7 separate regions of the Homo sapiens genome follow, and all the other regions are reported to be linked to region 5. The links are microRNA targets in miRTarBase. Many come from high-throughput screens and were not tested one by one. Region 5 holds a microRNA gene; each other region holds the end of a gene's coding sequence. Distances are from middle to middle.

Region 1 (4,068 bases), not on the chromosome of region 5:
CAGTGCCGCTGCCACCGCCGCTGCCACCGGGCTGCTGGACAGCCCCACGTCCATCACCCCACCCCCTATTCTGAGCGCCGATGACCTCCTGGGCTCACCTACCCTGCCCGATGGCACCAATAACCCTTTTGCCTTCTCCAGCCAGGAGCTGGCAAGCCTCTTTGCCCCTAGCATGGGGCTGCCCGGGGGTGGCTCCCCGACCACCTTCCTCTTCCGGCCCATGTCCGAGTCCCCTCACATGTTTGACTCTCCCCCCAGCCCTCAGGATTCTCTCTCGGACCAGGAGGGCTACCTGAGCAGCTCCAGCAGCAGCCACAGTGGCTCAGACTCCCCGACCTTGGACAACTCAAGACGCCTGCCCATCTTCAGCAGACTTTCCATCTCAGATGACTAAGCCAGGGTAGGGAGGGACCTCCTGCCTACTCCAGCCCCTACCCTGCACCCACATCCCATACCCTCTTCTCCCTACCCATCCCATTCCCCACAGGCCCTACATTAACAAGGTTAAGCTCAACCCCTTTCCCCCAGCACCTCAGAATGTGCCCTCCCTCTCCCCCTCATAACCCCACCTAACATAAGGACAAGTCAATTTGTCAGTAGCTTCTTCTGGCTTGAAACCCCCTCCCTGGATTTTATAGCCCACTTACCATGCATAACAGACAAGTCCCATATTTTGTCAGTAGATGCCTTTTTTTTTCCGGCTTAAGCCTTAAGTGCCAAATCACAAGAGAAAAAGCAGTAACAGTTTACAGAAGCAACTTAGTGCCTTGTAATCTAACTTTGTCACTGTGACTACATTACCTCTTCAGCGCCAGAGGGCACCCGTGGGCCTCCCGGAGCCTCTGCCCATGGCGGGGTGGAGACCCGGAACCAGCAGCCCCCTCCACTGGCGACACAACTGCACCTTCCCTCATTTCAGTCTCCCGCACACTTATTCCTCCTCCCCTCTTCCCGGTGGCACCTCTCCACCTGTACCCGCCCCCCCACCCCCCCCACCCCTGCCCCTTGGAAGAGTTGTTGCCAGACCAGGGTTTTGGGGGAAACCTGTCTTGACATTCAAAACCTTTTTCTTCCCGATCTGAACCCCTGTTGACTAATCTTGCCTGGGTTTGTGTAGGTCTGCAGGAAGGAAGGCTGAAAAAGCGGACGAAGATTTTGACTTAAGTGGGACTTTGTGATTTAATTTTTTCTTTTTTTTAAGTGGGGAGGAAGGGGAAGCTAGATGGACTAGGAGAGACTTGATTTTGGTGCTAAAGTTCCCCAGTTCATATGTGACATCTTTTTAAAAAAAATAACAACAAAAAAAAAATGAGAGAAAAGCTAAAAAAAAAAAAGTAAGGGGTGAGCAGTTAATGGTATTCATTCCACATACAATATCTGTGTAAAACGATTTCCTGTAGAAGTAGCTTTAATGGTTTTTGCTCTAGAATACCGTAGGTCTATCCTTAGAGCACTCACGCCATGCTTTCTTCCCTGGGTTTTAAACTTCATATAACTTTCAGAAATTGGAGAGCAAAAATTTTGCTTGTCACTGCACATCAATATAAAAAAGCTTATTTAACTTATCAAAACGTATTTATTGCCAAACTATGCTTTTTTTTGTTAATTTTGTTCATATTTATCGGGATGACAAATCCATAGAATATATTCTTTTATGTTAAATTATGATCTTCATATTAATCTTAAAATTTTGTGACGTGTCTTTTTCCTTTTTTTCCACAGTTTTAATATATTATTCTTCAACGACATTTTTTGTAACTTTACACTTTTTTGGTTATTTTATTTTAAAAAAATGAAAAATTAATTTAAAAAAATGCAAAAAACTGTTGGATTATTTATTTTAGAAATTCCCCCCTTTGTGTTGGACTGCAAATTGAGTTTCTTTCTCTTTAGGCCTTTCACAACTAGGACTGAGAATGTATGTAAAAGTTCTGTGACAGTACAGAAGGAAAACAACTTTTTATGTATAGCTTCTAAAAGGGGAAAAAAAAAAAAAGAGAAACCCTTTGACTTCCACGTGCCCATCTCAAGACATTCCACTCACAGATTTGAGGTTCTGGATTCCAGGTCTGGAGTTTTCCAATGTTAATGTAAACAGAACTGGCACACACACATTAAGATGAATGTAATTATTATTCCTCTTGCTGGTCACTACCGTCGCTTTCTATTTCTCTTTCTTTGTGTGAATTTATTTAAAAGAAAAAAAAACTTTTTGTAACGACTATTTGCAGTTTAAAAATCAATAAACCCCGTTTTTTCAAGAAACATTGATGGTGGAGCTGGTTTTACTTGGTTTTGGTTTGACTTTGCCAGTAAGGTTCTCCCCTTGTATACCTTGCAAGTCCTGGGTAGGGGGAGGCGGAGAGAGAGGGCTGTGGCTGTGGGTGGCGGCATCTCTCATCCCTATAAGCTAAGCCTATAGCTCCCTTCCTTGATGCTGGCAGTTTGCTGCGCTTAGAGGGGACGGGGTGGAGGTTTTCTGCAAAGGAGCCTGTACTTCCTGCTGTATTACTTCTGAAAAGACTGTGCAGTGTGTTAGTTGTTGGCTGAATAGCAGCGGGCCCAGCCTTGCCGACACTTGTGTGGCCTCTGCGGTTCTTCTGGGGAGCCAAGGCTCAGGGCCTTCCAGTCCGCCCCGTCCAGCCTGTGCTCTTCATTCCTTTGGATGGTGTTTGGGGTGCCAAAATGATAAAAGAGGACCTAGCACTTGGCACACTTGCAGGCTTGGATTTGAGTGAGTTCTTTTATTGGGGTGCCTTGGGCTCATTTTGCCCATAAGAAAGAAATTTACCTCAGTACTGGCCTCTCAACACCTACCCGTGTGGGGAGGGTATAAGGAAGCACTGCCTGCTTGGAGAGGAATGTCCAGCGGGGTGAGGGGCTCAGTCACAAGGAACTGGGAACTGGGACTGGATTTGACATAGCCTTTTGGGTTTGGAGGGCTGTTAAGGGGAAGTGAGTGTTAACACTGGCCAACACAACACAGCAAGTCACCAAGGGTTCCCACCACCTTAGTTACAATCTCAGGTGCTATGCAAAATTAGGTATGTCGTCATCTTGGGAAAGGTGGGGTCTCCTTGGCTAGATGCACCCCCACCAAGGCTAGATGACCACTTAAGAGGTGGCATTTCACCCGCCGGAGGAGTTGGAACTTTCACAAATCTTGAGTGTGAGCCTTGGGAGGATTTATTTGGGGAGAGGCAGAGATTGCTATTTGCAGCTCACTTGCCTTTGGTTCCTTTACACCCAGGAAGTTTTGGGAGTTCAGCTGAGTCACCATGATTCCACCAGGCCTCTTCCGAAGGTCTGCAGCAGACATTGGGCAGGCCAGGGATGTCCCTGAGACTCGAAGACCTACCTCTACTCTCAACTCATTTCCCTGGTCATCAGATATCTACTGGGGGTCAGGGGGTGAGGTAGAAAAATAGGGACTATTACCTGTTCCAGGGCAGGGGCTGGTGGTTTAGGAAGGGGAAAAGCAGCCCTTCTTAGGACTGGAGTAAACCTAGGCCTCTTGTCCCTTAAGGAGGAAATGAACTTTGTGTGTGTGTGGAGGTGGTGGTGGTGGTGGTTGGTGGTGGCATGTGATCTTCCTTTCGGAGTAAAAGCAAAAAAGACATTTAATCATTCACCTTGAGCTCATTCCCTGCAGGCATACCTGAGCATGTGGCAGACACCTTTCTAACTTCCCCTCTCATGGTGACGCTGGTTAGGTTCCTAGAGGCCCAGGCGTACCTCCTGGCCAGCCCTGAATTTCCTCTAGAGGAGACAGTCCTTTGACTGAGTCAGTCCTTTGACTTTGTCTAACCAAGATAGAGACATTGACTACTGGAGGCCCTGGAGGGTGGGGGTTGGCTGTAAAGCCCAGGGGAGACTCCTTATCATGTGGGGAAGCTCCATGTCCCCGGGTCTTAACCCTTTACCTCTACCTAAGTGTCTCCCTGGGGAACTCACTCAGGCTGGGATTTAGGTAACCCAGGCCCATGTGTGGTGGCCACAAGAGCCTGGTTGTGTCCCATTGAGTCCTTAAAGTTAGAGGAGATGGCCCTTGGGAAAGGGAACAGCAGA
Region 2 (4,068 bases), 44 Mb from region 5:
AAAATCAGATGTCCATGGGTCCACATCAAAGGGTGATGCTGACCCCATGAGAGAGTGTGCATAAAACAGCACAAGGCTTGGCATGAAGAAACGCTTAATAACTTATAATTTATTTTTAAGGTTAAACCCATTCATTTTCTATATTTGGAGGTAGAAAGTAGGAAGTGTCTAGACGGGCCTGGCAAGGAAGAGGGCGTAGATAGTGCTTCTGATCACCTGTGACTCCTTCCTCTGTTGCAGCCCCCCATGGGTGAGGAGGGCAACCACAAGCGACACTCAGTGGTAGCAGGAGGTGGCGGCGGTGAGGGCAGGAAGCGGTGCCCCTCCCAGTCTTCCAGCAGGCCTGCTGCCATGATCAGCCAACCCCCTACACCACCCACCGGCCAGCCTGTCCGGGAAGATGCCAAATGGACAAGCCAGCACTCGAACACACAGACTTTGGGAAAGTGAAAAGCTCCTTAGCCCTGGGGCTTGAGGGGGGAAAGGGGTAGGGTGGGTAAGAGTCCATGGGGGTGCCCAGTCCCAGGAAAGGGGACAATGAAGGGACAGGCCTGGAGTTACTAGGACAGGCCTTTGTGCTGAGTAGCAATGTATACACCATTTGGGCTATCAGAGGTACCCCTGGGCAGGAGCCTCTACATCCCCTTCCCCCTCCTCTCTCCATGACTCTTGACATCCTAGCTTCTTCTAAGGGGGGAGGGAAAGGGGGGAGATTTTTATATATATATACATATATATATATCAAGTTTTAAATTATTGATAGTTCATCTGGATTACCAAAATCACTCTGCAGCCCTGCCCGAGGCTAGTAGGCTGCAACCCTGGTCCCCACCCCTAACCTCCTGCTCCCCCTCAAGCCAACTATGCAGCCCACAAGAAGGCCCTGCGGGCCCCCCCATTGCCCAGCACTGTCTCATAGAAGGCTCTGGTGGTACCTCTGGGCCCCAGGAGCATCAGCCCCTTGATCATCTGGGGTTTGTCATCACCATATTTTCTCCCTGCTGTTCCCACCATGCCCTTCTGCCATCTTCTGGGAGAAGGAAACCAAAGGATCTAAAACTGGGGTTTGGGGGAAGGTTTCAGCCTCTCCCCACTCCCCTTGCCCCACACCCTTTACTCCCCAGCCCAGAGAGACGCTGCTTTTACCAGGAAAGACTATTGAAAGATGTTTTATTTTATTTTTCTCTGACCTTTCCATCCTTGAAAAAATGGGGAAAAAAGAAGAAAAAAGACAAAATCGACCATAAAAGACCAAAAAAAAAAAAAAAATCAGAAAACCCCCACCTAATCCACAGAAAGTAATGTCTTTCCCCTCCCCTTGGAATTTTTGTTTTGTTTTTGGAAATAATATTTTTTTAAAAGTTGCCTTATTGTGGAGCGGGAATCTGAAATACCCAAATGCCTGTTTTCCTCGGTGGAGTCAACCCGAAGAGCTCCCACCTTCTCTGGATGTGCCTGGGCTTGGACTGGCTAGAATCTTTCTCTGGACTGTTGCATGTACAGTGCCTCCATCCTGGAGGCAAGAGAGTTGGGAGTGGCTCGAATCAGAGCCGTGCCCAAGATATCCCTGCTGTTGCATCGTTTGAAGCTGACGTCCTGTGTCTGTACACTGCTGCCACTGTTGTGTCCTCGCTCTGCTTGCTGTTGCCTCACGCCAGGCCCCGTCCTGCCGTGACACCCTTCATCCTACCCTTGGAACCCCAAGGCCAAGTTGGTTCAAACTGTTGGAGAACAGAGTTGGCCTGCATCTGGAACACACTTGTCCTCAGCTTACCATCTCCTCACACCCCAGAGTGGAAAGGTGAACACCTGCAGCTGAGGCTTGGAAACGTTTCTTGTGTTGCCCTGAAAAATCTTTGAGACCTCAGGGAGGCTCTGTCTCTCTTAAAAGGTGGAGAAAGATGCCATTCTCTCCCTAAGGTCTGGTGGAGTCTCCCCATCTTGCATACCCTTCTGCAAGCCATCTATCTCTGCTCACTCTCCAATTGACCCGCCTGGGAACAAGGGATGAGGAGGAGTTGGGGGCTGGGGGGAATCCTGCCAGTTGGTGAAGCCCTGTGGCAGGAAGGTATATGTGGACATAGAGTATACCTGATTCTCTTTCTTCAGCCACTGACTGCTTGGGTTGGGCTGTGAATGATAATGGAATGGCTGGAGTCTGCTGTTGTCAGAAGGCAGGGAGGGTGATGAAGGACTGACCCACATGGACTGGGATGTGTGTCGGTTATGGGCATGACTGCACGTTCACTCTCAGTGGGATCTGGGCAACATGGAGTTCATTGTCCTGTTGCTTACTTACTGCAATGTCTTTGGCCCTCCTTTTCAACTGGTTCCTCTGTTGGGCCCAAAGGTTGGGAGTAGGAGACAGTATCCCAGGCTGACAAGGGCTTGCCCTTTACCTTGGGCACCTTGTTAATTTTTAGCCTGTGCCCTTCCCCACCTTTGCCCTCCCAGTGGTTGGTATGTGGGAAGCCCATCTCAGTTCCTGTGACTTCATGTCTCAAACCAAGGATGAGCGTCTGGTCTCTGCTATGATGGTGGTATCCGAGGCCTTTCCCTGCCCAGTCTGGTGCCTGCCCCACATTGTACCGGACACTGGATTCCTGGACCCCCTTCTCCTTTCCTTTCTTTCCTTCAGGTCACGCAGCCCTGTACTGTATCCAGCACCACAGAAACCTCAGTGTTTTTCCTCTGCTGGTTTGGGGCACAAGGAAGCCTTAGGGTATGGGGAAAGGCTGTTATTACCTAGAGTTTACTCCCAGGCCAGGGGGCTGCCATCTTCTTCACAGACATCCCTGAAAGGAAGCCCCTTTGGGGCAGGGAGGTGAGGACTTCATCTCAACATCGGCTGGTGGTTGGTAGGGGAGCTTTTTCTTTTCTTTCCTTTTTTTTTGTTTTTGTTTTTGTTTTTGTTTTTGGTAACATGTTAGGAGTTAATGTTGCAAAGAGTAGTTTACATCTTCACTTTCTGAAGACACTTGAATTTAGGACCGATGTATCTGTGACAAGCATGCCAGAAGTGGCAGGGGCCATCAGGGCTAACCACTTCACACCTACCATCGTCCCATGGGGATCCAAGACCTGAGATAAAGCAACAGCCTGCCCAGATCCCTCTGTTCATCCTATCCCTTCCAAGGTTGGTCCATGCCAACATAACCTCTGGGCATCAGACATCAGCAGGTCTGTGTGCCTCAGCCCTGTTAAGGGGCAGGTTTCTCTTTAGCCCTCTTCCTGCACTTGGGAGCAAAGGCACTACCAGTAGAGAAGGGCCATCCAGCCGTGCCCCAGCCTGGACCCCTGGGGCTCAGATAGAGGTGCTGAGCCCCTGTGTCAAAGTTGTTAAATGTTTTTGTTTTGTTCCATTGTAGCTCTTTTTTTTTTTTTTTCCCCTTTCCTGGTGATTGATTTTACAAAAGAAAGTAAGCTGCTTAGAAGGCCCTGGAAGGGAAGTGAGGAGGAGGGACAAGGAAGATGACTAGTTACGGAGGGTGAGGGTTGTTTTTTGCCAAAAAGCCTGGGTAGAGTGATCTGAATTATCTGGCACCCTCCTGAATGGAACCCCAGAGTACCTCCTGTGTGGAAGGGTCCCTGGATTTTCCCTAACACCCACCCTCTCCCCCTTCAGCCATGCTGATGGCAGAGAAGATAAGAACTTGGAGCCCATTTCTCACTGGAGAGGAAAACTTGTCATCTGGCTTTGCGGAGAAGGTTCCACCTTACGCTCGTAGTACATTATCTTTACTATGTGCTAGGATATCATATTTAAAAGGACAAAAAAATGTAAAATACTTGAATGAGCTTGTATTATAACATTAATATTATTGAGAGTATCTGCTTTCCAGGCTGAAGTGATTCATTCATTATTCTAGTCCTGCTTTAGTCCTTTGTAATTTGTGGTAATTATGCTTTTCTTTTTAATACAAAAAAATGTATAAAAATAAACACTTGAAAAGGCAAAATACTGGCTGGTCTTCCATCTAGGTTACTGCTATTGGGTGTGAAGGATGGGTTTCTGGTAGAGTTCCCCCAGATCCGGAGGAACCCTGCACTCAATGTGCACATGAAACC
Region 3 (4,055 bases), not on the chromosome of region 5:
TATCTTTCTTGCCTTTCTGCAGCTTATTTAAACATGTTTTAGATTCCATCTTGATTTATTTGTAATACTTCTGAGTTTGTCACTTTGTATAGTTTTCATAGTGGTTGCTCTGGGTGTTACACATGCTACTTATAACAATGTACTGGTATCAATATTCACCACTTCAAATGAAGTGTGGAAACCTCACTTCCATTCAGGTCTCTTTGGCTTCCCCACCTTTAAATATCATTGTTTTAAGTATCAGATGGTGTTACAATTTTTGTTTCAAACATAAAATATATTCTCTAAAACCCATAAGGAAAAAATTGTCTATTGTATGAACCAGTATTTCTGCTCTATTGTTTCTTCTTCCTTCCTGATGTTCTAAGTTTCCTTCTTTTATAATTTGAAGAACTTCCTTTAGCTAGTCTTTTATGGGTAGATTGGCTAGTCACAAAATCTTTTAGTTTTCATTCATCTGTTAATGTTTTTATAATCCCTTCATTTCTAAGAATGTTTTGTTTGTTTTCAAAAGATAATTTTGCTAGATCTAGAATTATAGGAGATGATTCTTTTCTTTCATCCCTTAAAAAATATTTGGCCACTTCCTTATTTATGGTTTCAGATAAGAAATCCATTCAAATTGGTGTTCCCCTACAAGTAATGCACTGTTTCTCACTTGCTGCTTCCAGGACTTTGTTTTTAGTTTTCAAAAAATTATAATGTGCCTGGGCATGGATTTTTTTTTTCTTCTGTGGGATTCATCCGGCTTCTTGAATCTCTAAGTTAGTGTCTTCTATCTAATTTGGAATGTTTTCAGCCTTATTTTTTCAAATATTCATGTCTACCCTTTTTCTCCTTTACTTTCTGTTACTCCGATAATATGAATGCTGGATATTTTGTTATTGTTCCATAGGTCCCTGAGGTCTGTTTATTTTTTCCGGTTTATTTTCTCTCTATTGTTCAGATTGGGTAAATTCTATTGTTCTGTCCTCAAGTTCACAGATTTTTATCCCCCATCATCTCTACTGTACCATTAAGCCTATCCAGTGAGTTTTCAGTTTTTGTATTTTTCAGTTCTATAATTTTCATGTTTCCTTTTGATAAAACTTCTATTTCTATTTTTCTGAGGTTTTTCTGTTTTTTCATGTTTCAAGAGAATTTGTAATTGATTGTTGTAGCATTTTTATGATGTCTGCTTTAAAATTCTTATCAGATAATTTCCAATATCTGGTTCATCTCAATGCTGGAATCCATTGATTTCCTTTTTCACTCAAGTTGTGATTTTATTGTTTCTTGATTTGCACTCTGAACATTTTGCCTATTATGTTAGGAGACTGATTTCTATTTAAATATTTTGTTTTGCAAGGAATCACTCTGTTTAGGTTTAGCATACAGTTTTAGCCTACTTTTGTGGGCTGTAATTCTAATGGCAGCTTAATTTTCAGAGCCCTTGCAGTGTTATTTTAGTTGCTTGGTTTATGTAGGGCTCCCACTGGTCTCTGTTACTGCTGCCTGAAAGGGCAGGAGGAATTTCCCTGGCTGGGTTGCCAAGTGTCTCTTGGTGAGGGTGGGCTATGATAAATCCTGCAGATGCCTCTAGCTGCCCAGATTTCTCTGGGCCTGGGAGGAGAGTCTTGCTTCCACATCGTGGCTTCTGTGACCAGGTTGCTGGCTTCAGAGATGTCGTCTGTGACAGGTCCCTTTTCCTGGTTCTACCAGCCAATCCTAGTATCTCTGGGCAGGAGAGGACAGTCTTAGGCCTGTGCAAAAAGGCTTCCCCAACTGGACCACCTATTTTTCCTAGGTTTCTCTTACTAGCTCCTCCTGTCCACCTCAGTATCTTTTCTTGGAAAAGAGGAGTTTCTGACCCAGCAGGGAATAAGGGTGCTTCCCCTGGTCACTTATTTTTTTTGTAGGCCTCTCAATCAGTCCACTTATTTTTTTGTAGGACTCTCAATCAGTCCCCTTGCCTGAGGTTGCCAGAGGGACTCCATTAGGTTCAGGGGGAAGAATGAGCTACTGGGCTACCTTCTGCTGCTAGATGGAAAGTCAGGAAATACCTTCTGATAGGGGGATATAAAATGCCCTGCCTCTGTGCTGTTCTTCTGGTCCTGGGTTTTCAAACCAACCTGCTTTCTTCTTAACACCCTTTAGAATCCTTTGGTTTTCTCTTGTACCATTTCCAAAATTTATTAAGTTGTGCTTAGCAGGGCATAGCAGGGGAAATGGGACAATGCCATCTTGTCCAGACCAGAAGTCTCTCACCTACTGAATGTTACGTCTACATTATCTGTAAATATATATATATTTTCGCTAATTTAGATCCAATTAAATATGAATAATCAAAAAATCCCAGAGAAGTCTACCTAATGCAGAAATTTAACCTATTTTCTCCACATGTAATTAAATTAATGAGACTGGGGGAAAATGGATGTGTCAATAAATGGGATCTAAAGTGAGCACGTAAGGATATACTGTTAAAGAACATACACACATACTCTCCTTCACTCAGGCCACCTCCTTCCAATCTGCTCAGTGTGGATCTCTCCGTCAAGCACAGATGGATTCATGAAGCCTCCAAAGGGGCTTCGAAAAATGGGAGGGGGTGGTAGAGCCTATTATAGTGAAAATACAGTCCTTTCTTCCTGGGGCCCTCTGAGTGGCAAGACCTGCCTGGATGCTTCTGCTTGGGAAATCTCAACTCTGAAAGGCTGAGTAGTGCCAGGAGAATGGTAGCTCCAGAACTCCCTAGGTTGGTCGGGGTCTTCTCTGAACTTTAGTGGTGAAGGTGGCTTAATCCAATCAAATGCACCAAAGTAGGAAAGCAGATATTTATTTGGAGCAGCATGCTCAGCTTGGCATGTTTTCTTTCTTCCTTATTTATATACTGTGTCATTCCCAAGAAGGATTTAAAGTGACTTCAATCAATACACAATATATATGAAAATATAAATTAGATATACAGGTAAAAAAAGAGCAAGAGGAAAACAAGGCACAGGAATAAGGCTGGTGCAAAACTGCTTCTCTGTGATTTTCTACACTTACAATAAATAGTCCATTTATGGGCTGGCAGGATAAACTCCTAACAAGAAAGGACCCTCAAGACATGCCATGGAGGAAGATACATTCCCATGGGAATGTCCCTATAATACTCCATAGATTTCCTTTTCCTGAAACATGTTTGATTTCTTCTTAAACATTCCCAAGTTCTCATTTTGAGAATGGCCAGGGTTCTGGGCAGTGTAGTCTACTGAAAGACTCAGGCTACTAAGTTCCTGAGGGATCACATTCCAGTCAGGGTCCATTACAAGTCAGAGATTATATAAATATGCAAGAGAGCATGAACCAAGGCTAAAACTACAGTTGGTAATTCCTCGAACTCTAACTTTTTTGTTTTTTGGCCTTTTGGGTTTTTTAGTAATGGGGACTTGCTCTATTGCCCAGGCTGGAATACAGATGTGTGATCATGGGATCCTGGCTCATTGCAGCCTTGCACTCCTGGGCTCAAGGGATCCTTCTGCCTCAGCCTCTTGAGTAGCTGGGACTACAAGTGCATGCCACCACACCTAACTAATTTTTATATTTTTTGTAGAGACGGGGTCTCACTATGTTTCCCAGGCTGATCTTGAACTCCTAGTCTCAAGTGATTCTTAGCCTCCCAAAGTGCTGTGATTACAGGTGTGAGCCACTATACCCAATCTCAAACTCTTGTATTTAAAATTCTTCTATTTGATTCTCAGAATCTAAGCCAAAAACTGTTAGACTCAGACTTGCAGTTCCCAAGTCAGCTGGAAACCTAGGTGATGCTGATGACACACAGGAGCCGAGAAGTAGCCACAGAAGTTGTGCTGTGCTTGGTGACTAAATGACCACACTCCTTCCACTATGAGAGCTGTCTTTCTCCTGGGAAATAGAAGAATACACACACAAAAAAAATCCAGTCAGTGCAATCCGTCTATGCATGTAACACATAATGTGCTCTTGATTTACAAATCCTAAGTGGGTGGTGGCTGCCAGGACAGCAGATCTGAACCTAAAAAGTATTTCTTTACTCTTCATGAAACCAATCTCTC
Region 4 (4,068 bases), not on the chromosome of region 5:
CTGACCGTTCCATGGGGGATGGACCCCCACTTCAGCCCCTGTCCAAGAGCGGTGCTCAGGGCCAGCTTTGAGTGAGGGACACGTGGGGTTTACTGCAGCCCCTGTCCAGGAGTGGGGCTCAGGCCAGCTTTGAGTGAGGGACACGTGGGGTTTACACGTGGCCGCTTGTCTCTGCAGAGTCCACTGCCAGCTGGTTCGACTCTTTGCACGAGGAATTGAAGAGAATCCGAAGCCAGACTCACACAGCTGAGAAGCCGGCGTCCTGCTCACAAACTGGGAAAGTGTGAAAACTATTTAAGATAATTATTACAGACCAATTATGTTGATATATACATTTAAATGTAGAAATTTATTTTTGATAGTTAAATCTTGATTTTAGAAGAAAACCCTTTTGTCAACAATTTTGTGTACATATTTGGCATTTTCAGTTCTGTACGCATCTGCGGGTTGCAGCCCACGCCGCTTACTCTCAGCGGATGCAGCTGCTCACTTGGGGGCACTGGCCTCTTAGGTTTTAACGATGTCAACAGTGTAGTTTAGAAAATGGCCCGTTAGTGGCTCTATTGCAATAATGTTAGGGACATTATATGATTTCCACGCAGGTCACACCATCTGGGCCTGAGGTAGCAGTGGGTCACTTTGATCCACTTTGCAGGACTTATTCTGTAACGGTTTGTGGCCAAGTTTTGGGAAGTGGTTGATTCTCTTTGCCTTCATTTCACCTTCCTCTTCGTTTACGGTTAGGACATCGCTGCTTGATCCTTACAATACTGTGCAACTGCAATGCAACGTGGCCCTGCTTCAGGTGATCCGCGGGAGGGGCCTCCACGCCAGCGCCGGGAAGGCTGCTGGGGCCTCCACACCTGCCTCATCACGGCGGCGAGGCTACGACAATCCGGCTGGGAGCATGACCTTGGCGTCTGTTCTGGGAGCACGGATGATAAGCTCTGGAAGCTGGCAGTGTGTAAAGCACTGGCAAGTTTGTTACTGTTAAAATGTCAAATACCAATGCTTTATATCGACGCGAAGTGCTTAACACAGCCGGGCTTGGGGGCAGTCAGGAGGAAGCTGGCCATCCGTGGAGGAGGGGCCGGTCCTGGACTCCCGCAGGACTCCTCTGAGGCAGGGCCTGAAGTCTGTACACGTGGTCCAGATTTGTCCTTGTCTTTTCTTCACACTGAGTTCTCTATATTTATTGAACATCTTGTCCTTTTAAGCCAGAGTAGTGTAAACTGCGTCTCGGATGTCTGTCTTTTGCCTCGAAGCCACGATGGATCGCTGGTTTCCTCTGCAGCGCGAGGGCTCCGGCGACCAGAGGATTCTTCCCGGAAGGCATTCCTGCCGCGCTCCCCGGGGCACCCCTCAATTGTGTACTACGTCCTTGTTTAGTGTGTATCCGTGCCCACGTAGATGATGTCTGTAACGTAGTTTTGTTTGAAATATGAGAATATGCGGCTTAAACTTTGATCTGTAAGGAGCGGGGCCGTGGCCGTTTGGAGCACGCTGTAGACACCGTTCCTCATGCTGCCGGGTGGGTTTTGCAGAAGCTCCCTTAGTGATTTCATGTTTAACAGGCAGCATCCATTTTCAGAATTTCCTGGCATTGATTTATATTTTGAAGCATACAGGAAACTTCTCGTTTCCTCGTTTAGCCCCACCCAGATCAGGTGAAAGGGCAGCTTTAATGGTGGTTTTTATGGACCACATTATCAGAGAGCACTGTGCAAGCCAAATGGTTCAATAATGAATGAAAATTCTGGGTGTAAAGAGTAAATATGCCCTGGCTCTTTCTACCAATGTTTGCTCCTGGTTGGAAAGAAACCAAAGATTTAAGACGGGCTGCTCTTCCAGACTGGCTGTGCCTGCCTGTGCCCAGCAACCTGTGCAGCCGGCAGTGTGCCTGGTGTCACGCCAGGAGGCTGTGGCTGCTGTGGGCCCTCTGGAATTGTGCTCCTCACAAAGTTTCCCCAAAAGGTTCTTCTAAGCCTTTATTGTCCCTGGTAAATGTTTCCCGGCTGGGCGCGGTGGCTCACGCCTGTAATCCCAGCACTTTGGGAGGCCGAGGCGGGTGGATCACCTAAGGTCAGGAGTTTGAGATCAGCCTGCCCAACATGGTGAAACCTCGTCTCTACTAAAAATACACAACTTAGCCAGTCTTGTTGGCGCACGCCTGTAATCTCAGCTACTAGGGATGCTGAGGCAGGAGAATCGCTTGAACCCAAGAAAGAGGTGGAGGTTGCGGTGAGCCAAGATTGCGCCACTGCACTCCAGCCTGGGCAAACAGAGGGAGACTCCATCGCCCCCCCCAACAAAAAAAAAAGTTTCCCATACACTGGCCTGCCCCAAAACCCACTAACAATTTTAGCAAAACAGTCCAGGCCAAAGAGGAAGCATTTCATGTTCAATAAGAAACCCAGCCATTCCGCATGGCTGGTTCCTGAGTGGCTCTGGTGATACTCTCCAGCCACCTGCTGACATTCAGAATCTCAGACCTCGGGACTGCTGTTGCGGTACCGTGTGTCTGACACCTGCCAGCAGCCCTTTGCTATCTGCGCGCAGGATGGGGGTGACTGCCCAGACATTCCCGCTAGATAGGCTCTGATTTCCGGGGCAGCCTTTCAGATGCGGCAGACATACAACACCTGTACTTTAGAGTTTTAAGGGAAAAAAAATCAGAAGTGCTGGTTAGATAGTAAAAACTTAGGATAACTTAGAAAGGCTAGTTTTAGCTTCCTTTGTGGCTCCCTGGTGCAAAACAATTAGCAGTTATGCAATGGACCTGATTCTAGTTTATTCTAATTAAGAAGTGAGGCCGAGTTTGACTTCGTTCCTGAATACAATCTTGAGTAACTGGGAAAGTCTGAGTGAAAGGATGGCCTCATTCTCTTTCTAATCTTGCTGGTTTCAAGATTAGAAAATGGCATTATTTGATCTGAAATGTTTGAGAAGACACGAATAAAGTTACTTGGGCAGACTTGGCTTGCTTTCTTTCCTTTACACATACCTGTTATTTTCAAAGCAGAATATTTTTCATGAAAACACACACAATTTAAAGAACAAGAATAAAATGAAGCAAGGTGTCACCACCACCTATGCCAGGCAACTGAACGCCGCCCCGAAGCCTTCTGTGCCCTGCTCTGGAGTCCCCCCGCTCCCCCTGGGAGGGCGCTACGAGGTCACGCCAAGCGCATCCCTTCCTGCCTCTGTCCATGGCTGTATCTGCAACAGCGAGTTTAGTTTTGCAGGTTTTGCTCCTTATCCAAAGGAAACGTGTTGTTTTCTGTAACTTGCTTCTTTCACTCCACATGTCTATTTTTATTTATTTATTTATTTTGAGACGGAGTTTCGCTCTGTCACCCAGGCTGGAGTGCAGTGGCGCAATCTCGGCTCACTACAATCTTGGCTCACTGCAAGCTCGCCTCCTGGGTTCACGCCATTCTCCTGCCTCAGCCTCCGGAGTAGCTGGTACTACAGGTGCCCGCCACCACGCCCAGCTAATTTTTTGTATATTTAGTAGAGACGGGGTTTCACTGTGTTAGCCAGGATGGTCTCGAGCTCCTGGCCTCGTGATCCACCAGCCTCGACCTCCCAAAGTGCTGGGATTACAGGCGTGAGCCACTGCGCCCGGCCCACTCCACATGTTTGAGAGGGCATTTGCATTTGTATTTGAGGAACTTCGAAAGGACATTTGCATTGTGAAACTGACTTTTCTGGTCCATGAAAGATCCTCATTCATGTCTTTTAATTATTTTATAATTTTTTCCATGAAAGTCTTTAAATTTTTAGATTTATTCCTAAAACTTGACTTTTGTTTGTTTTTAACCTTGTTTTAAACAAGGTCTTATTCAGTTGCTCAGGCTGGGGTACAGTGGCGTGATCACGGCTCACTGTAACTTCAATCTCTCAGACTGAAGCAATCCCACCTCAGCCTCCTGAGTAACTGGGACTACAGGCGTGCAACACCATGCCTGGCTATTTTGTTAAAATTTTTTGTAGAGACAGGGGTCTCACTCTGTTACCCAGGCTGGTCTCGAACTCCCGGGCTCAAGCAATCCTCCTGCCTCAGCC
Region 5 (4,068 bases):
TGGAACATGTTGTTGGATGCATGCTCTTTTTGCCCCTCAGCATTTTTTTAAAAATATGAAAAAATCATTATGGTTCTTTATCATAAAAGTTGTAGACCAAAAAAATAGGTATGTAATAGTTCTACTTCAAAGCATAGTATTTCTCTTTTCTCTATTTGTCAGTAAAACGATCTCAAGTTTACCTTAAGGCTGAGAATTTAGAACTATGAAGATCAAATTTTAAAAACCCAATTCCCACATCTATACTTTGTTACTTCTGAGGTTTCTCATAAGTGTATTTTCTAAGCTTATGCCTCGAATCTCTAAAATCTTATAAACAACTAATTATTTGCATATGTATAAAGACTAGGAGAACATTAACAAAACTTTATTCATGCTTAGTTTGTTCAAAAAAAATTTTTTTTTTGGGCTGCGGGGGACAGAGTCTTCCTCTGTTGCCCAGGCTGAAGTGCAGTGGCGCGATCTCGGCTCACTGCAAGCTCCGCCTCCCAGGTTCACGCCGTTCTCCTGCGTCAGCCTCCTGAGTAGCTGGGACTACAGGTGCCTGCCACCACGCCCGGGTAATTTTTTGTGTTTTTAGTAGGGACTGGGTTTCACCGTGTTAGCCAGGATGGTCTCGACCTCCTGACCTCGTGATCCGCCCGCCCTGGCCTCCCAAAGTGCTGGGATTACAGGCGTGAGCCACCGTGCCCGGCCTCAAATTTTTATGTTAAAGAATATTCATCAAACTAGCACCTGGAAGAAAGCCCAGGTAGTGCTAGTAAGAATGAACTGAGAACATTTGTTGTCATTTAGGCAGAAGATTTTACACAGCTGACTTTACAGGAAGGGCATACCCAAGGCTAGTGCTCCTCCTCTGCAGCTTCCTTTATAAAAGGAGCTGGTGCCGTAGTAGTAGAAGCAGGAGTAGCTAACATTTACTGAATGGTGCAAAGATGGGAAAGGTAAGTGCTATAATGCCCCATGAAATAGGTTAAGAATAGGCTTTACTGGAGAGGCTTAGAAGTCAACCGTTAGCAGAAAGAAGTACATGGTTTACATTTTGAATTATCCCATTGATTAGGGGTGCTGGAGTTTGGGGAAGCATTTGGACATTCATTGGGTTTGTATTTCAAAGGGATAGTGCCTGACTGCTACTCTACCTTCTTATAAGAGTGTAAACTCCTTTTCAGTGGAGAAATGTTTTTGGCTCAGTTATCAAACCATCATGAATCAGTTAGGTATCATCTAAGGGACGGGATGATGGAAATGCCAGCTGCCCAGAACCTGGAGGCCTTAAGAGGTGCTCTTAATGGTTGTAAAGAAAGCATTGAATCATTGGGAAGTTGGGTTTAGGAGAAGAAACTCCACAAAGTGGGAGATTCTTAAGACCCTCAGTTCTAGGTAGCATTTTGCCAGACAATCCAAGATGATCAATTTTGTTTGCCACACCACATGAGTGCATTTTATAAGCAAGGCACTATGTGAAGTACTACCCTTAGATGGAGTTATGATTATTTCCTTCATTTATAGACATGGATATTGAGTTTTGATGAGGTTAATTAGTCCAAGGATTTGCAACCATAAGTTCAGAAATTTGAATTTAAACAAAGGCATTCTGACTCTTGTGTTCACTGTGCTGTTTTCTTCTCCCTCATATGAACTTTATCTGATACCTAAGCCTTGAGCAATTGTTTAAAAATATGTTCAAACAATTCTTTTTCAATTTCTGCCGTATGATTTTTAGAACTTGATTTTCATTAGTGAACTTATTTTTTCTAGGCCTTGAACCTCTCTACTTAATTTTAGGAAATTTATATCAAAGAAGAGTCACTTTCTAGTAAGTCTAGTAAGTACATATAGAGAGAGTTTAAATAGAAGAGGGCCCCCAAAATAGACTTGGCCTCTTAACTTAATATTGTCTGGGCTTGACCGTGCCCCTAGGATGCCTAAGTAAAATGTCTTAAACCAATCTGTCTTGTTCTGTTTCATGAAGGAAAAAAAATGTAAAAAGTCTGTGCCTCCTTCAGACTATGTGAAATATGCTTATTTTATAGGTTTTTTTTCTGATTGATTTAAAGTAAGTTACTTAACTTCTCTGAGCCTTAGGCTTCTGATCTTTAAAAATTAAAAAGCTATACATTGCTCTAAGCTTTGTCCTGAGGATATAGAAAAAGAAGGTAGATAAAGAGCCTGGACATGTCAGTTCCTTATCCTTTTGTTCCATAATTTACTAGATGTTCTAAAATATTTATTTTCTTTAGAATATAATATTTAATTCTTAGTAAGATTGTGATAAATAATAAGTGGAAGGTTTACATTTTTGTGCTTTTTTTTAAGCTATGAATTGCTGCTGGCAACTTTTCAAGAGAACATACGGGTTCATGATGATTTCCTTTTTGGTTATTTTATGTTTCCCTTCCTGCTTCTAGTTATTTAATTAAAAAGCAATTCATTTCTGGTTTTGACTATGCCAGACATGTATTTCGGGGGTATGGTGATAAGACATAGTATGAAAGAAAATGTTGATTGTCAGCATTGCTGGTCACAGTTGTTAGCTGCACAGAAATAAAGAACATTGAATGGTTCTTCAGAGATGGGCTTCTATTTATTGAGCCTTTGTGAAATAATTGAGTTTAAATAAATGGGTTGGATCATTGGCTTAGATCAGTTACTTAAAGTGTTAAAATGCCCAGAGATTGGGAGTGCAGATATTTTTGGCATACTGATTTTATTTCTTCTGAATATGTACTCAAAATATTAGGTTGGTGCAAACCTAATTGCAATTTTTGCAGTTTTTTTAAGTAATTGCAAAAACTGTAATTACTTTTGCACCAACCTAATACAATTGCCGTATCATATGGTAGTTCTATTTCTAATTTATTGAGGAACTTCCATACTATTTTTCATAGTAGACATACCAAGTTACATTTTCACCAATAATGTATAAGCATTCCCTTTTCTCCATATCCCCATCAACACTTATCTTTTGTATTTTGTCTTTTTTAATATGCATCTTGACAAGTATGAGTTAATACCTGTAGTTTTGATTTGCATTTCCCTGATGATTAGTGATGTTGTGAACATTTTCGTATACTTGTCTGTTGGCCATTTGTGTGATTTCCTTGGAAAAATGTCTATTCAGTTCCTTTGTTGACTTTTTACTTGGGTTACTTGGGTTTTTTCCCCTTTTTTGGTGTTCTTGTGTTTTGTTCTTGTTTGGTTTTATTTGATATTAAGTTGTATGAGTTTCTTACATATTTTAAATATTAACCACTTACTGAATATATGGTTTCCAGTTATTTTCTGCCATTCCATAGCTTATCTCTTCACTCTGTTGATTGTTTCCTTGACTTTGCAGAAGTTTTGTTTTTAGTTTAATTCCACTTGTTCATTTTTGCTTTTGTTGACATTGAAGTGCTATTGGAAGCTTAGAGGTTGAATCCAACTCTTAATGCCAGAACTATGCTTCGTACATCGGTTTGTAATATATAACTCAGTTTATCTGCAAACTTGCCTTGGAGATAAATCAATTTCTATCTATCTATCTGTTACATCTTCCCTCCTTTCCTGTCTTTCCATTGGTGAAACAGAACCTTGGTCTGAGCAGGAATTATGGGTGTCATCAATGGGGCAATAGCTTTAGCTTCCACTTTCACTGCCATAGCTTTATGCTTATATGACGAGTGTCTTTCTTTAATACAATCATCAACCCTAGGACTTCTCCATTCATAGTAACATGATGTGATAAAGAATCTTAAAAATAACACAGGTATTAAAATGATCTTGGTGAGATTTAAAAGTATTCTATATTTCAAATACAGATCAGTTAGAATTAAAATGACAGCACTTTGGGAAGATAAAAATAATACAACAGAAAACAAAAACAAGATCTACATGTTTTTGTTTTGTGTTTTGTTTTTTGTGTGCTCTTTGCTCTTTCAAAGAAAGGGGGATTGTTGAGCTTATGATGAAATATTTTTACAGTAGTTAATAAACATGCATTAACTGCTTAATTAGAATGTAAACTTCCTGAAGCGTTCGTATCCAGGGCAGATGTTTTCAGATTTCTGTCCGCCTGTCAGGGAA
Region 6 (4,068 bases), not on the chromosome of region 5:
AGGTGGGGGTTGCAGTGAGCCTAGATTGCGCCACTGCACTCCAGCTTGGGCAACAGAGCGAGACTCTGACTCAAAAAAACCAACAACACTAAGGTCAATCTAAATTTTTAAATTACTCATCAAAAGACCTTTCTCTAGTTTCTTTTGTCTCTTAATTTGTCTTTCTTTTTTCACACCTGCATATTTTCTGTTACATACATACATATGTGGTCAAAGTGACTTGATTACGGTAGAGAAGATTAATGATTATACAATATCATCTTGATGTCAGTTTTGTTAACTTTTTATATGTTAAGTTGCTTATTTTTTAAAGTTCAGACACTGTGTTAGAATTTCCATATAAAAATGATAGTAATTGTTCTTATCAAAATAGCTTAACATTGGGAGAGGGAGTTCTACATTGAAACAGGTAATTCATAGCACAATACAGCAAGTATTAATCTAGACTAGATTTCTGTTGCATCTCAGTCAAGAATATGATTTCCAACAGAAGTTCAATACAATGAGAATGTTTTATCAAATTAATTATAATGGAAACTTGTCCCATATCATGCCTGCATTTATGAGAGGTATGTTTTGAATGTCTTCATTAGTTGTTGAAATGCAGTGAATTATTGACACTCTCTGCTGTTTGTCTTTCTAGGCACCCAATAACTATAGAAGTCCCATCTCTACCAGTCAACCTACCAATCAATCCATGGATGATACAAGAGAGGATATTTATGTCAACTATCCAACCTTCTCTCGCAGACCAAAGACTAGAGTTTAAGCTTATTCTTGACATGAGTGCATTAGTAATGACTCTTATGTACTCATGCATGGATCTTTATGCAATTTTTTTCCACTACCCAAGGTCTACCTTAGATACTAGTTGTCTGAATTGAGTTACTTTGATAGGAAAAATACTTCATTACCTAAAATCATTTTTCATAGAACTGTTTCAGAAAACCTGACTCTAACTGGTTTATATACAAAAGAAAACTTACTGTATCATATAACAGAATGATCCAGGGGAGATTAAGCTTTGGGCAAGGGCTATTTACCAGGGCTTAAATGTTGTGTCTAGAATTAAGTATGGGCATAAACTGGCTTCTGAATCCCTTTCCAGAGTGTTGGATCCATTTCCCTGGTCTTGGCCTCACTCTCATGCAGGCTTTCCTCTTGTGTTGGCAAGATGGCTGCCAACTCTTGGCAATTCATACATCCTTGTTTCTGTCTGGTAGAGAGTTTGCTTCTCAAATGGAGCAAACAAATTTGATTATTTTTTCATTGTTAAATAGGCAACATGACCAGAAAGGATGGAATGGCTTAAGTAAACTAAGGGTTCACTTCTAGAGCTGAGAAGCAGGGTCAAAGCACAATACTGGGCAATTCAGAGCATGGTTAGAAGAGGAAAGGGGAGTCTCAAAGCTGGAGAGTTTACCAACAAATATTGACTGCAGTGATTAACCAAGACATTTTTGTTAACTAAAAAGTGAAATATGGGATGGATTCTAGAAATGGGGTATCTCTGTCCATACTTCTAGAATCCACTCTATCAGCATAGTCCAGAAGAATACCTGGCAGTAGAAGAAATGAATATTCAAGAGGAAGATAAATGCGAGAGGGCAATCCTTTACTATTCTCATATTTATTTATCTCTCATTCTGTATAGAATTCTTGCCGCCATCCCAGGTCTAGCCTTAGGAGCAAATGTAGTAGATAGTCGAATAATAAATAACTTAATGTTTTGGACATATTTTGTCTACTTTTGAGAATTATTTTTAATATGTAAATTCTCTCAAAAGGGTCAGGCACCTAGTTATTATTTTTTAATGATTATGTGAAAGTTGAATATAATATACCACTAAAAGTGACAGTTGAAAGTGGTGGCATAGGACGGTAGGGTAGAAATTTGGGAGGGAAAAAAGAAATTGGGAGGGTACAGGCAACAGGAGAAAGGAATCAAACCACAGAAAAATACAAAGGGAAACTTCTGCTTCACTATTCAGACAAAGACAGCCCTAATGACATCACCAACAGTCAAAGCAATTAGAGACCATACCTAATATTGTTTAAATTCTAGATGTAGGCTAACAATGAAAAGTATTTGCCAAACTGAATAAAACTGTCATGGTTACCTTGAAAGGACAATGGTTATTGTTAAATATAGTGATCATTCATGTCTAAAAGATTCATTATTTATCTCTAAAGATTTCTAAAGACCACCATCTAGAAAAGATTCATTATGAAGGCTGTATTTAAATATCAAAGTTGTGGACTTCATGATAATCTTAAATAAAGCAAATCCAAATTCTCCTGTTGCCTAGACAGATTCTAAGATGTAATTTACACTTTTAAGCTAATTAGTGAGTATTTTATGATTTTAGCCTTAAACACCATGTATGCCAAATAATGCACTTGTTTTGTGAATTACAGAAATGGTAAGTGCCCACATTTCTGTGAATTATAAAATTTGTGAGTTTCTTTTAACCCTTTTCAGGAGTGAAAAAATAAAAACGACCATTTCCTGGTTGTGCTTAAGTATATGCAAGAAGGGTAAACTCTCATTTTTATTATGTTTGCTTAAAGATCTTTTTATACCTGGATTCATGAAATGTTTCCACAAATATATTAGTGTAACAAACTTGAAAGGCAGTTTACAAGAAAGCACTCTACTATCAGATCAATCAAAGATTCTGTGAGTGAATTTATTGGTTTGCATGGTGAAGCAAGCTTAGCATCAATTAAAAGGTAAATAATTTCTTTTCTGAATGGTAAAGACAATCAAAATATTACTTTCTGGAAAACTCCAATAACCAAATTCTCAATGATTAGTGTATGTGAGCAGGAAAACATTTTTACAGTTGTAGTATGGGGAAATATAAATCCAATTTTAAGAGAGAAAATTATGACTGGGTGTGGAAGGGACAGTATAGTCAGATACCATTGTCATGGTGGTTTTTACTGGGAACTTCATGAAAGACTTTTGTAGCAAACCACTGCAGTATTGCAAAGCCTCCAGAACATTTGGAACTTGTCTCTTTTTCCTTGTGTGTGTTTGTGTTTTTGGTCTCTCATTCAAAATATTGATGAGAACTATTTACTCTGTCCTTTCTTCTCTATATATTCTTCCTCTACAGAGTGTAGGGTTTTTTCAGGAATTTGGAGCCATCTGAAGTCCTCCCAAAAATTCTCTGACGTCTTCTGATGCTCCTGTTATACCCTCAGGGGTAATGCTTGTGAAATTCCATTCATTCATTTTCTTTCTCTGGACATCTTTACTTACCAAAGCACTTTCATTGTCATCTTTTTAACATCATTCTTAATTCGTGATAGTTTTGGGACTCTCCCTAGTGTATGTTTCTCCCCCTCTACTCTTTTGCACCTATGATTCTGATTGTTACTAAGAAAGCAGATGAAAAACAGATCCACAGAATAAACGATCAGAATTCCAGTAAATTCTATTTTAAATACAGATACTTTTTACAAGTTGCTGCTTTGGAAGCAAAATGCTTCTTAAGTTTTACATATATATATATATATATACATATATATATACACATATAATTTATATCGATGGATAATACATTAAGAATCTATGCTTCCTTTGAATGCCATTAATATTTATGTTAAAGTAACCAATGAAAGGAAATTACTTTGTTATAATAAGATAGGAAGACTTGTTAATGGAGTACACAGTTTTGTCAGGGAAAGAACACATCTTATTGAACTATGATGACTATGCATTGACTATATTATTATAAGAGATACCTTCAAACTTTATTTAAAGAACTTTAGGTATAATATGTTGAGAAAATAAAATAGAAATTTCATTTACTTGTAATCATGCTTAAAATGGGAGGCAGGTAGGTGAAGATATAATTTTTAGTAAAAACTCCAATTTATGTTTTAAGTAATTCAGTGTATTACTAAAATACTATATATATAAACTTAAAATACATGGGTTATCAATTTAAAAGACAAAGTAAGTAAAAATACTTTTAGTAGGCATTCGTGGATTGTGAACATCCAAGTTATATTGGTTTGTATAGAATGGCATTAAGTAAAAATTACAGCTGTATAACA
Region 7 (4,068 bases), not on the chromosome of region 5:
ATTTGTCCAAGAACTCTGAAGATGATGAGCTAGCTAAAGAATCAAAGCGGTCAGTTCGAAAGCGGGGCCGAAGCACAGACGAGTATTCAGAAGCAGATGAGGAGGAGGAGGAAGAGGAAGGCAAACCATCCCGCAAACGGCTACACCGGATTGAGACGGATGAGGAGGAGAGTTGTGACAATGCTCATGGAGATGCAAATCAGCCTGCCCGTGACAGCCAGCCTAGGGTCCTGCCCTCAGAACAAGAGAGCACCAAGAAGCCCTACCGGATAGAAAGTGATGAGGAAGAGGACTTTGAAAATGTAGGCAAAGTGGGGAGCCCATTGGACTATAGCTTAGTGGACTTACCTTCAACCAATGGACAGAGCCCTGGCAAAGCCATTGAGAACTTGATTGGCAAGCCTACTGAGAAGTCTCAGACCCCCAAGGACAACAGCACAGCCAGTGCAAGCCTAGCCTCCAATGGGACAAGTGGTGGGCAGGAGGCAGGAGCACCAGAAGAGGAGGAAGATGAGCTTTTGAGAGTGACTGACCTTGTTGATTATGTCTGTAACAGTGAACAGTTATAAGACTTTTTTTCCATTTTTGTGCTAATTTATTCCACGGTAGCTCTCACACCAGCGGGCCAGTTATTAAAAGCTGTTTAATTTTTCCTAGAAAACTCCACTACAGAATGACTTTTAGAAGAAAAATTTCAACAAATCCTGAAGTCTTTCTGTGAAGTGACCAGTTCTGAACTTTGAAGATAAATAATTGCTGTAAATTCCTTTTGATTTTCTTTTTCCAGGTTCATGGTCCTTGGTAATTTCATTCATGGAAAAAAATCTTATTATAATAACAACAAAGATTTGTATATTTTTGACTTTATATTTCCTGAGCTCTCCTGACTTTGTGAAAAAGGGTGGATGAAAATGCATTCCGAATCTGTGAGGGCCCAAAACAGAATTTAGGGGTGGGTGAAAGCACTTGTGCTTTAGCTTTTTCATATTAAATATATATTATATTTAAACATTCATGGCATAGATGATGATTTACAGACAATTTAAAAGTTCAAGTCTGTACTGTTACAGTTTGAGAATTGTAGATAACATCATACATAAGTCATTTAGTAACAGCCTTTGTGAAATGAACTTGTTTACTATTGGAGATAACCACACTTAATAAAGAAGAGACAGTGAAAGTACCATCATAATTAACCTAAATTTTTGTTATAGCAGAGTTTCTTGTTTAAAAAAAAATAAAATCATCTGAAAAGCATTTGTACAGTAAAATGTATAATGAAGCTTTGCCAACCAGACTGTGCTAGCAACAAATTTTTTTAAATAAGCTTTATGCAGTGGTAATAAGGTGGCCTCAAATATATTGTGTCTGATGGAGAGTTATTAGTGAAATGAATGTGGTCTTTCTTAAGGCCTGGGTGGACTGTAAACTTTGCCAATAGTATAACTCTTGTCTTCTGGCCACTTGATGTTTAAATATCTGAAATATCATTTTGAAAAAAATACATCTATATATAACATACATGAAGAGATGCTAAGCTGACAGTGATATTTTAGCACATTTGAAGACTGGGAAGAGATTTTCAGGTGAATTTTAACTGGTCTATTCTTGCCCTTAGTATCTACTTCAAATTGAAGTCTACAAACAAAGCAGTTCCTTTGGGAGGTTTTTAGTTTGAGTTTTAGCGTGTGTGTGTGTTTGTGTGTGTGCGTGTGCGTGTGTGTGTGTGTTGGAATTTCCTATCTGCCTGGATATATTAGCAGAGTTTGAATGTAGTTTTGGCCTTTGGCCATTAGACTTCTATTAAAATTCATTAATAGTCATACAACCAACATAGAGTTGAATGAGAACTGCCGATGTAATTAATAGGCATGACATCCATTTCAAACATCTCAACACTTTAAAGAAAAGCCCTTTGTTTCAAGAAAAAAGGGTTTGTAACTAACTAAATACCTAACATGTAATTGACACTAAAATATGAACTTTGTCTTATTTAGTTTCTGTTATAGCTGTAAAATTTCAGGCAGAGCCATAACATTGTACAGAGTGTAGCACTTGTGATTAAACCTAGCCTGTTAAATCCTGAAACCTTCAACCATTACTTCTGTGAATACTTTAGCCCTGGGATTTGGGTTTTTCTGTTCCGGTGTTGTGTCTGTTGCCGGCAATGGACACACCATATCTGCTGCTGGCCCAAGGAACGTCATTAATTTTTCTTTCCAAATTAAGTATTATGTGCTAGTCAGTGTATAGTAAAGCACTTCTCTTTTTTATTACTAAAAAGCTGGCATTAGATTTGCATTATAAATACCTCTCTAGGAACTTTATACTCCTTTTCCTTCTTCAACAGGTATTGCCCTTAAATCTTATCTTTTGGCCTTGAAAGTTTATAGCTATTGTTTTTCAGTTGTTCGTTGTTTTGTTTTGTTTCACTTTAGTTCTGTAGTACCTGCCCATTAATATTTTTGCTTTGATTCTAGCAATGTGTATGTATCTGTATAAAAAATAAAATAATGAAAGCAACCTAAAAATAGGATGCACCAATAGCATGTGGTTCCAAGTAAGTTGTGATTTTTATTTTGAGACAGTGTTCCACTGGAAGGGAGGGAAGGGCTTACATTCACAGACAGTAAAGCAGGGCTGTGTAAGGAGCTACATTTACTTAACAGTCTCCTTTCCAGCTAGGTTTGTTTTATTTATTTGCAAGTCAGCTAAGAATTAACCTTTTAAACCATCTAAAACAGGCAAGCAATATAAAGATTTCTACTAGTGCAAGGTAAGTGGTTTGAATATACAAGTGCCCTTTCCTGCCACCCAGTCTCACTACCGTTTTAGTCCTGCAGCTGGGTAAAGCCACTATTGTGTGGAAACTCTCCCATGTGCCCTGTCTCTACCTCTGGACACACCAGCTCCTTCTTCCACCTATTCTATTCCTCAGTTAAGCCAAGTGATCAGAAGTAGTATTAAATGGGTAGATAATTTTAACAGGATGCCTAATGTGAAATAAGGAGTTATTTTTACTCTTCTACTATAGAAAGCCTAAGGTAATTCTTACCATCTCAAAGACTGAGTATTCCATTTAGGTTTGGAGACCACTTGTGCTGTGCTGCCTGATATTTACCAAACTTGAATAAGTGTTCGTCAACTTGATAGTGAATGTACCCCTTCTCACCTTATATTTTGATTAAATCAATTAACTATAGGTCATCTACCAAGAATGTAATCCAAGCGGTTGATAAAACATTATTAGGCAGATAGATTATTGATTATTAAATTTTGAGCAGTGCAAAAACGGTTTTGCTGCTTGGAGTTCAGATTCAGTCCCTCAAAGAGTTTATGATCACTGAAATACACTCTGAAGGTATTCTGAAGAAGTTAAAAAATTTTAGAAAACGAAATGTTCTGTATACAAAGACAATACAGTCACTACGAACTGCAGAAAGTATAGGAAAGCAGTAATTGATGTAGAGTTTAGACAGTCTTGGATCTTTTTTAGAGCACTAACCATGGATTTAGACTCAAAATAGCTGCTACATAATAGAGCCCTTTAATAATTTAAACCCCCCTTGTTGAAATACAAGTTGGACTCCCAGTGTCAAACTCTAGACTGTAGCTAATGTATTAAAGGGAGATGTAGATTAATATTCAGTATATTTAGTTTGCAATTTCTGAAAAGGTTTGAAAACTAGTCAGCTTTTCACACAGCAGAAGCTTTGAACTGAAATATGTGTGAAAAGGACGCAGACTGAAAACGTTTTGGTTTTGTACATCAGTGCTGATGAAATTAGTGTAAAACATTTTCCATCATTGGCACATTACTGCAAAATGATGGCAGAGATATTTTCAAGAATGTACATCAAGTTATATTTCCTTGACATCCTTTTTTCAATTGGTCAAGGTTACAGATTCAGAGGATAAAGGGTAGTTTCATTTAGAATAAATTCATGTCTACTGGCAATCTATATATAAAAGTGACCTGCCCAAGAACCAAAAACTTTAAATGCTAATGAAGCTTTTGAAAAATAATTTTTAAACAAATTAATTTTAAAAGGGTGTTACACGTACCCA

The links. Region 5 holds the annotated microRNA hsa-miR-548f-3p (AAAAACUGUAAUUACUUUU, at 2,792-2,810, shown strand). A microRNA usually pairs through its seed, bases 2 to 8, with sites in the 3' UTR of a target mRNA and lowers its output. Matches are read on the target gene's strand: a 7mer-m8 pairs with bases 2 to 8, a 7mer-A1 pairs with bases 2 to 7 and ends in A, and an 8mer does both.
Region 1: the mRNA of ZFP36L1 is a reported target of hsa-miR-548f-3p. Seed matches in the 3' UTR shown: 8mer at 1,720-1,727.
Region 2: the mRNA of LARP1 is a reported target of hsa-miR-548f-3p. Seed matches in the 3' UTR shown: 7mer-A1 at 745-751.
Region 3: miRTarBase lists ILDR1 as a target of hsa-miR-548f-3p. Seed matches in the 3' UTR shown: 7mer-m8 at 3,734-3,740, 7mer-A1 at 3,335-3,341 and 7mer-m8 at 2,996-3,002.
Region 4: miRTarBase lists CERK as a target of hsa-miR-548f-3p. Seed matches in the 3' UTR shown: 7mer-A1 at 2,654-2,660 and 7mer-A1 at 2,722-2,728.
Region 6: the mRNA of CD226 is a reported target of hsa-miR-548f-3p. Seed matches in the 3' UTR shown: 7mer-A1 at 3,502-3,508 and 7mer-m8 at 3,679-3,685.
Region 7: the mRNA of RSF1 is a reported target of hsa-miR-548f-3p. Seed matches in the 3' UTR shown: 7mer-A1 at 1,678-1,684.

What each region holds. Positions count from the first base shown.
Region 1 is chr14:68,785,859-68,789,926 of GRCh38, reverse strand. It overlaps ZFP36L1 (ZFP36 ring finger protein like 1), which reads left to right. Exons shown (of 2, transcript NM_004926.4): 2 at 1-2,265. The coding sequence ends at 394. Among named protein-coding and RNA genes, the nearest start is that of ZFP36L1, 5.2 kb to the left of the region's middle. RefSeq lists enhancers at 50-129, 140-199, 2,632-2,811, 3,101-3,395 and silencers at 3,672-3,721, 3,742-3,811.
Region 2 is chr5:154,813,647-154,817,714 of GRCh38, forward strand. LARP1 (La ribonucleoprotein 1, translational regulator) reads left to right here. Exons shown (of 19, transcript NM_033551.3): 19 at 241-3,959. The coding sequence ends at 450. Among named protein-coding and RNA genes, the nearest start is that of MIR378H, 14 kb to the right of the region's middle.
Region 3 is chr3:121,984,524-121,988,578 of GRCh38, forward strand. It overlaps ILDR1 (immunoglobulin like domain containing receptor 1), which reads right to left. Exons shown (of 8, transcript NM_001199799.2): 8 at 2,800-3,885. The coding sequence ends at 3,844. LOC101927010 (a long non-coding RNA gene) reads left to right here and starts at 3,656. Exons shown (of 2, transcript XR_241555.5): 1 at 3,656-4,055.
Region 4 is chr22:46,683,316-46,687,383 of GRCh38, reverse strand. It overlaps CERK (ceramide kinase), which reads left to right. Exons shown (of 13, transcript NM_022766.6): 13 at 178-2,974. The coding sequence ends at 250. Among named protein-coding and RNA genes, the nearest start is that of CERK, 53 kb to the left of the region's middle. RefSeq lists a silencer at 778-1,072 and an enhancer at 3,353-3,854.
Region 5 is chr5:110,512,586-110,516,653 of GRCh38, reverse strand. It overlaps MIR548F3 (microRNA 548f-3), which reads left to right and starts at 2,739; the gene lies at 2,739-2,825. All of the region lies in intron 12 of TMEM232 (transmembrane protein 232), which reads left to right.
Region 6 is chr18:69,861,015-69,865,082 of GRCh38, reverse strand. It overlaps CD226 (CD226 molecule), which reads left to right. Exons shown (of 6, transcript NM_001303618.2): 6 at 644-4,068. The coding sequence ends at 769. Among named protein-coding and RNA genes, the nearest start is that of CD226, 85 kb to the left of the region's middle. RefSeq lists an enhancer at 188-257.
Region 7 is chr11:77,663,418-77,667,485 of GRCh38, reverse strand. RSF1 (remodeling and spacing factor 1) reads left to right here. Exons shown (of 16, transcript NM_016578.4): 16 at 1-4,068. The coding sequence ends at 569. Among named protein-coding and RNA genes, the nearest start is that of CLNS1A, 28 kb to the right of the region's middle.